Linked DNA regions of Homo sapiens: region 2 is linked to region 1. The links come from fine-mapping of genetic effects on gene expression. Tissue or cell type: whole blood. Region 1 holds a variant in brackets; the other region holds the start of a gene. All regions are shown on one strand. Distances are from middle to middle.

The links. PIP is the estimated chance that this variant, and not a neighbour inherited with it, causes the effect.
Region 2: PACS1 starts here. The variant in region 1 is fine-mapped to the expression of PACS1 in whole blood (TOPMed, PIP above 0.99).

What each region holds. Positions count from the first base shown.
Region 1 is chr11:65,841,728-65,846,727 of GRCh38, reverse strand. All of the region lies in intron 1 of SNX32 (sorting nexin 32), which reads right to left. Among named protein-coding and RNA genes, the nearest start is that of SNX32, 10 kb to the right of the region's middle. The variant A/G (reference allele first, on the strand shown) is at 2,948.
Region 2 is chr11:66,067,575-66,072,767 of GRCh38, reverse strand. It overlaps PACS1 (phosphofurin acidic cluster sorting protein 1), which reads right to left and starts at 2,496. Exons shown (of 24, transcript NM_018026.4): 1 at 1,926-2,496. The coding sequence starts at 2,281. SF3B2 (splicing factor 3b subunit 2) reads right to left here. Exons shown (of 22, transcript NM_006842.3): 20 at 4,723-4,822; 21 at 4,435-4,620; 22 at 3,460-4,094. The coding sequence ends at 4,023. RefSeq lists silencers at 1,552-1,756, 1,817-1,966, 1,977-2,106, 2,257-2,306, 2,317-2,936 and 1 more and an enhancer at 4,484-4,643.

The DNA of each region.
Region 1 (5,000 bases):
ACAGGCGTGAGCCACCGTGCCTGGCAAAAAACATTTTTTTAAACACTCCGGAAGGCTCCTTCTTGCCCCACACCCATCAATTATCTCCCACCCCAGAACTAACCACCATTCTGACTTCTATCACCATAGATTATTCTGGCGTATTCTTTTTTTTTTTTTTCGAGACAGAGTTTCACTCTTGTTGCCCAGGCTGGAGTGCAATGGCACGATCTCAGCTCACTGCAACCTCTGCCTACCAGGTTCAAGCAATTCTCCTGCCTCAGCCTCCCGAGTAGCTGGGATTACAGTCATACACCACCACGCCCAGCTAATTTTGTATTTTTAGTAGAGATGGGGTTTCTCCTTGTTGAAGCTGGTCTGGAACTCCTGACCTCAGGTGATCCGCCCGCCTCGGCCTCCAAAGTGCTGGGATTACAGGCGTGAGCCACCGCACCCGTCCTGGCCTATTCTTTTTTTTGAGACGAAGTCTCACTCTGTCGCCCAGGCTGGAGTGCAGTGACATGATCTCAACTCACTGCAACCTCTACCACTCAGGCTTATGGGATTCTCCTGCTTCAGCCTCCCAAGTAGCTGGGATTACAGACGCCCACCACCACGTCCAGCTAATTTTTGTATTTTAGCAGAGACGGGGTTTCACCATGTTGGCCAGGCTGGTCTTGAACTCCTGACCTCAGGTGATCCACCCACCTTGGCCTCCCATAGAACTGGGATTACAGGTGTGAGCCACTGAGCCCAGCCTATGCTGGCCTGCCTATTCTTGAACTTCACAGAAATGCAATTATGCATTGTGTATTCTTTTGTGCCCCTGTTCTTTAGAGAGCTCTCTACGTTGTTGAGTGGAGAAGCAGTTATTTTCATTGCTGTGTCTTATTTCATTACATGATTATATCATAATGTATGTATCTACTGTTGATGGTCATTTGGATTATTTCAAGTTTTTGGCTATTATGAATAAAGCTGCCATGAACAGTTTTTTGTTGGTTTTTTTTTGAGATGGAGTTTTGCTCTTGTTGACCAAGCTGGAGTGTAATGGCAAGATCTCGGCTCACTGCAACCTCTGCCTCCTGGTTCAAGCGATTCTCCTGCCTCAGCTTCCTGAGTAGCTGGGATTACAAGCATGGGCCAGCATGCCTGGCTAATTTTTTGCATTTTTAGTAGAAACGGGGTTTCATTATGTTGGCCAGGTTGGTCTCAAACTCCTGACCTCAGGTGATCCGCCCACCTTGGCCTTCCAAAATGTTGGGATTACAGGCGTGAGCCACTGCAACCGGTTACTTTTTTTTTTTTTTTGAGATGGAGTCTTGCTCTGTTGCCCAGGCTGGAGTGCAGTGGCACGATCTCAGCTCACTGCAACCTCCGCCTCCCGGGTTCATGCCATTCTCCTGCCTCAGCCTCCCTAGTAGCTGGGATTACAGTCATACACCACCACGCCCAGCTAATTTTGTATTTTTTAGTAGAGACGGGGTTTCACTGTGTTAGCCAGGATGGTCTCGATCTCCAGACCTCATGATCCGCCCGCCTCGGCCTCCCAAAGTGCTGGAATTACAGGAGTGAGCCACCACACCCAGCCTTTTTTTTTTTTTTTTTTTTTTAAAGCAGGGGGGTGTTCTCGCTATGCTGCCCAGGCTGGTTGAACTCCTGGCCTCAAGCCATCCTTCCACTTCAGCCTCCCAAGTAGCTGGGATTACAAGTGTGCAGCACCATGTCTGGCTTCCATGAACATTCTTACACAGGTCTTTAGAAGACTTTTTTTTTTTTTTTTGAGACAGAGTCTTGCTGTGTCACCCAGGCTGGAGTGCAGTGACGTGATCTTAGCTCACAGCAACCTCCGCCTCCCAGGTTCAAGTGATTCTCCTGCCTCAGCCTCCTGAGTAGCTGGGGATACAGGTGCCCGCCACCACGCCTGGCTAATTTTTGTAATTTAGTAGAGATGGGGTTTCGCCATGTTGGCCAGGCTGCTCTTGAACTCCTGACCTCAAGTGATCTGCCCGCTTCGGCCTCCCAAAGTGCTAGGATTACAGATGTGAGCCACCACGCCCAGCCGTCTTTTGAGGACTTTTGACCTAAGTCCCCATTTCTGTTGGGCATGAGAATTGCTTAGTTACAGGGAAGACATATTGTATGTTTAAAACACTTTAGTAAATACTGCCAAACGGTTTTCTAAGGTGACTAAACCAATGTACACTCCCAGCAGCACTGTGTATGAAAGTTCCAGTTGTACTACATCTTTGCCACAGAGTCGTTAGTCATTTTATCTCTCTCTCTCTCTATTTATTATTTTTTTTTTTTTAAAGAAAAGGGGTCCTGCTAATGTTGTCCAGGCTGGCCTTGAACTGGGCTCAGGCAATCCTCTGGAGTAGCTGAGAGCTGCTTTTGTGTACACGTATCAATTGACCTATTAAGTATGATAAACTTTGGACTCTCTGTTCCATTGGTCTATGTTTGTCCTTATGATAATATCTCACTGGACTGATTACTGTAATCTAACAGGTGAGACTGGAAATCAGATAGTGCAAGGCCTCCACCTTTATTCTTTTTTTTCAGAATCATTTGGGTGATTATAGGTCCTTTACATTTCTACCCCTGAAAAACATACTGGGATTTTGATTGTGATTGCATCGAATATATAGATCAGTCTGGGCACAAACCACTGTGACAGCTCAGAATTGTTAGTCTTTTTTACTTTCACCCTGTTAGTCCAGGCATGGTAATTGCGCATGGGGAGTGTAACTGGTATTACCTGGTGAGGAATGATGTTGAGCGGCATTTTCTGTATTTATCAGCCATCTGCATATCTTCTTTTGTAAAGTGCCTATTCAGGTCTCTGATTCTTTCCTGCCACCTCTTTGAAAGATCAGATTATCTGTTTTTCAGTAATTTGTAGGAACTGTTGCTGGAGACAAACCCATTGTTGATTATACCTTTTGTCAGTATCTTTTCCTAGTCT[A/G]TAGTTTGCCTTTGACTCTTAATGGTTCAAATGTTACAAGCTCAACATAACAGTCTTTTATGTCTATGGTTAAGGCTTTTTGTGTCCTGTTAAAGAAAACTTTGCCTACCCCAAGGTCATGAAGATATTCTATTTATTTTTCTAGAGGTGTTACAGTTTAAGCTCTTGCAGTTGTATCTATAATCCATTTTCTTTTTCTTTTTCTTTTTCTTTTGAGACAGAGTCTTGCTCTGTTGCCCAGGCTGGTGTGCAGTGGCACGATCTTGGCTCATTGCAACCTCCGCCTCCCAGGTTCGTGATTCTCCTGCCTCAGCCTCCTGAGTAGCTGCAATTACAGGTGCCCGCCACAACGCCTGGCTAATTTCTGTATTTTTAGTAGAGATGGGGTTTCACTCTTTTGGCCAGGCTGGTCTCAAACTCCTGACCTCAAGTGATCTACCCTCCTTGGCCTCCCAAAGTGCTGGGATTACAGGCATGAGCCACCCTACCTGGCTATGATCTATTTTCAATTCATTTTCTTCATTTTAATTTTAATTTCTTTTTCTTTTTTTTTTTTTTTTGAGACGGAGTCTTGCTCTGTCGCCCAGGCTGGAGTGCACTGGCGCAATCTCGGCTCACTGCAAGCTCCACCTCCTGGGTTCAAGCCATTCTCCTGCCTCAGCCTCCCTAGTAGCTGGGACTACAGGTGCCCACCACGCCCAGCTAATTTTTTGTATTTTTAGTAGAGACGGGGTTTCACCATGTTAGCCAGGATGGTCTCGATCTCCTGACCTCATGATCCCCCGGTCTCGGCCTCCCAAAGTGTTTCTTTTTTTTTTTTTTTTTTTTTTTGAGATGGAGTTTCGCTCTTGTTGCTCAGGCTGGAGTGCAATGGCGGATCTCGGCTCATTGCAACCTCCGCCTCCCAGGTTCAAGCGATTCTCCTGCCTCAGCCTCCCAAGTAGCTGAGATTACAGGCGCCCACCACCACACCCAGCTCATTTTTGTATTTTTAGTAGAGACGGGGTTTCACTATGTTGGCCAGGCGGTCTCGAACTCCTGACCTCAGGCGATCCACCCCCCCTTGTTCTCCCAAAGTGCTGGGATTACAGCCATGAGCCACCGTGCCTGGCCTAATTTTAATTTCTTGAGATGGAGTCTTGCTTTGTCACCCAGGCTGGAGTGCAGTGGCACGATCTTGGCTCACTGCAGCCTCTGCCTCCTGGGTTCATGCCATTCTCTTGCCTCAGCCTCCCAAGTAGCTGGGATTACAGGCGTGTGCCACCAGGCCCAGCTAATTTTTTTGTGTTTTTAGTAGAGACAGTGTTTCACCATGTTGGCCAGTCTGGTCTCAAACTCCTGACCTCAGTTGATCCACCTGAGCCTCGGCCTCCTAAAGTGCTGGAATTACAGGCATGATCCACCACGCCCGGTGATTTTCAATTCATTTTGAATATGCAGTGTGAGGTATGGGTTATGATTCATTGTGCCATGTGGCCAGCTATTTGAGCACTGTTTGTTATAAAGATTTTCCTTTTGCTATTGAATTGCTTTGGTGTACACATATCCATTGACCTATTAAGAGTGACAAATTTTGGACTCTCTACTGTGTTCCATTGGTCTAAATGTTTATCCTTATGATAATATCTTACTGTCTTGATTACTGTAACTTGACAGGTGCGACTTGAAATCAGATAGTGCAAAGCCTCCAACTTTATTCTTTCTTTTCAAAATAATTTTGGCTATTATAGGTCCTTTACATTTCTACAGATATTCTGCTTGTTAATTTCTACCCCTCAAAAATGTACTGGGATTTTGATTGTGATTATATCAAATATATAGATCAATCTTGGAAGACTAGATCTCTTTGTAATTTTATAATTTATAATTTTTAATCTTCCAATCTAAAAACAGGTAATATCTTTCCAATTATTTAGGTCTTCTTTAATGTTTTGTAGTTTTCTGTGTAAAGGTCTTGCATGTCTTCTGTGAGATTTATTCCTAGGTATTTGATGATTCTCTTTTTCTTTGCTTTTTATTTTTATTTTATTTTATTTTTTATTTTTTGAGACAG
Region 2 (5,193 bases), 230 kb before region 1:
TGGGAAAGACTGGACCCACGTAGGAAGGAACACAGTGTTTCTATGTGTGAAAGAGGTGGGTTAGGATACTTCAGCGATAGATGGGCCTGTATAGAAAGAGAGAGGCCTGCTTAGGATCAAGAGAGGAACACCATCACATACTCAACTCTCGCTTGAGCTTGGTGTTGTGCTATGGATCTGGCCACAGCAAACTAAATTAATGTGGCTCCTGATTTCCCTAGAGAAAGGACAGAGAAAAAAAAAACAATGTGTAAATCTGTTAAGTGATGTGGAAACACAGAGTGGAAGCAGCCTGTGGAAACAATCTACTTTTGCCTAGTGAAGTCCCAGATCTATACCCTGCGAGCGGCAATCCCACCCCTCCATATGAATACAACCTAAAGAAACTTCTGCACAAGAGCACTAGGAGTCCTGGGGGGAAATGTGTGCATTACTGTGGGTGTTAAACAGGAAACAACCTACATATTCAAGAGAATTACGGTATATTCATTCACACAACAGAATACTACCCATCATGAAAATATTTAAACTATGGCTACCATACCACATGGATGATTCTCACAAACCTAATGCTGATTTAAAAAAAAATAAAAAAACCAATCAAGTCACAGAACACATACAGGATGACACCATGTACACAAACTTCAAGAACATTCAGAACTATAAAATATATAGAGATGCATTATGTAGTAAAACTAATTTTTTTCTAACAAGGGAAATGATAAACACAATTCAAAATAGTGTTTACCTTTGTAGAAGGAAGAGGGGAGACAGTCAGGAAGGGGCACCCTGAGAGCTTCAACAGAAGCGATAATGCTCTGTTCCTTAAGCTGAGCGAAACAGAAAGATGTACTCTCATCATTCCTATCTGGGATATATATATAAAACAATATTATCCAGAATAAAGGTGGGGAAAGGAAGACAGTCGAGGGGGGAGCCCAGCAATCCTCTCTAACTCTGACTTACACATCCGTCTGCCTAACCAACAGTGAGGAGACAGCCCAAGACTTCAAGGCAACAGAATCAACTCAGCTACAAGGTGACAAAAAAGAACACCTCCAGGCACTTCTCTGGGCTTTCTGGGTGAAACCAGCTCCACACACCGTCTTATTCAAGTGGCAAACTGTAAGACACAGCACCCTGTCCCCAGAGTTGGAGACAGACTGCCTTGCCAATACAAAAACAGAAAATATTCCCAAACTCAGGCCTATTTTGCCAATGGAAGGAAAGTCCCCAGATGGTTCCAACAGACAGAGAGCAATGGATTGAATTTAGGAACAAGGCAGTAATTTCATACAGCCCTGCAGAGCTGGGAGATTCTGGGACCAGTTTTAGTGGGGGAGGGGAGGTAAAAATACACTTGAGGACACATTAAATAGGGCCCCAAAACTAAGAGCCTAGCGCTTGGGACAGAACGTGTGTAATATGAAGTTCAAATGAACATGTGTGCCGAAGGCTAATGAGAAGCCCCTAGGGTGATTATATGAGCTTTACCTGCAAGAGGTGACAATCGAGTTTGGCACATGCTGAGTCTATTGGGAAATAATAATATCAAGAGATCTATACCACATCCATGTATGTACAGCTCCCGGCGCCGGCGAGGCAGGAGAGTGACTTACTCAGGGAAACTGACTGCCAGGAAGGCCGGATTCGGTCAGCCCAATCGGAGAAAGCCCGGGGCCGAGGCCAGAAGGTCCCTCGGGGAGGACAGAAGGGTGGTCCCGGCCCCAGGCAGAAGGTGGGGCTGCCAGGAGAGGGCGGGTCCCCGTGGCAGGAGTCCCGGGAGGCCTGGCTGGAGCCAGGCCGGGCCGCGGGACAGTCGGGGAGATGGAGGGCGGGGACCCCATGGGCGCTGGGGCGGGGAGGGCTGGGCCCCGGCGGCCACCCCGCTCCCCCGGCGCCCCGCCGCACCCTCCCGCGCTCACCTAGGCACGCAGCTGGACGAGCTCCGGTCCACCTCCCAGGTGGCGTACAGGTTCATCTGCACCGGGGCGGGGGTGCGGCCTGGCCCCGGGCCACCGGGAGGCGCGGAGCCCGAGGCCACCGCCACGGCCATGGAGGTGGAGGTAGACGAGGACGAGGAGGAGGCAGCCGCCGCCGAGGTGGACGAGGACGACGAGGTGGCCTGGGCCAGCTTGGGGGGCGTCGGCTGCTGCGGCGGCTGCTGCTGCTGCTGCTGCGGCGGCGGCTGCTGAGGGGACTGGGCGACCCCGGATCCCCGCTGGCCGCTGCCGCCCCCGGCGCCTCCGGGACCACCGCCCGCCCCTCCGCGTTCCGCCATGGCCCGGCTAGGCGGGGGTTACGGAGGCCGAGGCGACGCCGATCTGGCTCCCAGGCTTCCCCCGCGGCGGCGGCGGCGGGGGCGCGGCAGCCTCCTCAGCCCGCCTGCCCGAGCGCGAGCAGCCAGCGAGCTGCACGCACGCGCGGGGCCTCTGGGCGCGCGGGCCTCGCGCTCGACCGCCGCTGCCTGTTGCGGCTCGCGAGGCCGACACGGGTGGGCGTGTCCGGGAGGGGGCGGGGAGCCCGGCCCGCGCGGCCCCACCCAGCGCGGAGGGGCCGGGCCGGGCGCGCTCGCGCCCTGCGTGCAGCCACGCGCGCCCCTCGCTCCCGCGGAGTAGAAGGGGTGGTCTGTGGCCAGCGCGCGCCCACGGGTCCTGCCCTCAAATCCGCTGCCAGTCTGCCCCCGCTCCTCCCCTCCCCGCCCACGGCCGGCCGCGGCCCCGCCAGCGGAAACCCGGCTTTTCCGGGATTCGGTCCCTGCAGGGAGGGGGCCGCCGCGGGAGCGCGCCTCGGCCCCTCGGGTCTTCGGAGCCAATGCGGAACCCGCCCCCAGCGGTGGGGGTCTGCCCGGGGAAGCCGGCTCTCCGCCTGCCGACCTAGCCCTGCCCTGCGGCCCCGGCAAACAGAGAGGTCGGCGGAGACCCGGGGCCCGCTGCCACCGCGGGTGCCTGTGATCCGGGAAGTTCCCGCCCCGAGGGCAAGCGGGGGCTCAGGGACCTGGAGTCCAGAAGGTTCTTCGCATAAGTGAATTCTCAAGCTACCCCGGGGCCCATCTGGAGCCAACCTTCCTCTTCTTTCCCTACCCCCCAAATGCCTCTTTAGAGTGCCAGTGCTTTGTTGCTTACCAAATTTCTAAAATTCCATTCCTCCTAAGGCCTAGCTCAGCTGCCACGTCCTATCTGGATCATGCCCCCCACAACCCCGAGACCATCTTGAACCCTCCGGCAAGTGAGCGCCTCCACTGGTGCACTTAAACACCAACAGTAGTACAACAGCAGCGCATGACTACCCTCCCCACAGGCTGGCAAATGCCCATGGGAGCCAGTGATCCAGCCTGCTCTAGTCTGTCAGAAAGGCTGCTCAGGACCAGATTACAACCTGGAGAAAGTAAGTCCCCCCATCCCACATACAAATCCCAAACCCCAGCGACTAGTGTTGCTTGAACCCAAGGGTTCATATGGACTCAAGACAATTTAGCTTTTGAGCTATGTTGTCGCACAGGTAAGGACTTGAACTTCTGGTCACAAGGTCAGTTGGGAAGGCCTGCCCTGGCCTACTTCCCAAGCCCACTGTTACTTCCTCTGCCGCGCTAGGGCGCTAATCTGGCTATTTTTACTCCCCAAGGACAAAGTAGTAAGGTCAAACCAGACCTAGAGGTACTTCCCCCAAGCCTTCCTACAAAGCAGGGCAGTGGTGAAACACAGATTTCAGCCTGGGGTTGGCGTCACCACCAGTCAAATGCGCCGTCTAATCCCAGTTTATGTTCGTGGTTACTGGGGCAGCCCAGTGATTGTAGAAAGAGACTATTTTAGTCCTTTTGCAAGAAGGGGCTAAAAGGAGATGAGGGAGGCTCAGGAGTGTTAAATATTCATCTCTTTCCTTGGGAAACAGCTTTATTTACAAAACAGGTCTAAAATAAGAACATGAAATGACAAGTCCTTGGGAACTGCGGGAGAGGTGGTTCTTGTGTGAAGCCCAGGCATCCAGACGTAGGGCCAAAAAAAGGGCTAGTGTGAGGGGACCTAAAACTTGAACTCCTTATATTTCTTGCTGCCCCCACGGCTGTCCTGGGGCTGAGCTTTCCGTTTTTTTTGCTGTATAGGGAGAAAGAGACACAGGTTAAGACAGGTTGAACCACCCCCGGACCCCCAAAACAAGGGTGGGCAGCCTGACATAGACATAGAAGTCTGTGGGAAAGGCGCTGAATCTGAATTCTCTTCGAGCTCCCTCTCAGACTTGGCTGAGTTCCTCCCCCTCATCGTCCTTAAAGAGGGCAGCCCACTGGAGGATTTCTAAGACTTCCAAATCTAAGGAAGCACAGAGCAGCAAGCAGAGGCCACCCTCACTCTCACCACTAGAGGGCACCATGCCACTGAAAACGGCAGGCCAGGGTCCCTGGCTCTCACCCAGCCCAGCGCCCCTGGAAGCGCCTACCTTCTGTTTGGCAGCGTGCTCAGCCACCATGTCACTGAAGTCCTCCTTCTCTACTTGAGCCTGCTGCTCCCGCACATGCTCCTCATACTTCTGGGTCATGGCCATAGGATCCAGCTCCAACTCTTCAGGCGCCAGCGCCACTTCCACACCTTGCAGCTCAGGAGCCGGGCCCTTCCGGCTCATAACCTGGAAAGGAGATCAGGGCCTGGTCATCTCCAAAGAGTCAGAGAAGCCCTAGCTTCTGCTGCCTTTCTCAGCCTCCAAAAGCAGTATCCTCCAAGTACTCACCGTGGACATGTCATAAATGTGGGTTGATCCCATCATGGCCCCTCCAACAGTGGCTGTTCTCTTCTCTGGCAACACAGTGAAGAGCTGAGGTGTCTCACTTCTGCGAAGGACAATGGGATCAGGCCCAAAAAGCAAGGGACAAAAGGGTCTCCAGAAGCGGAAACAAAAGATACAGGTGGCACCTCCACTCAGCGCCTTGGAGAGCTTCTGAGCTCCCCAAGGATGCAGCCTCTGCAGTTCTGCCCATGACAGAAAAGAATTGGGCGGGGGGGTGGCACAGTGCTGACTCCAGGGAACACAGATGGAGCTAAGGGGCCCCCTGAATCAAGTCAAGGGATCACAGACCAGGACTCCCACATGCACATAAGGGTCAAAAGGTCAGAGAGGCTCAAAGTTTCCAAAAGAACTTTGGTACAGAGAAGCTGGCAAGATAGAGCAGGCGACAACAGTTCCCACCCGAAGAATGTCATG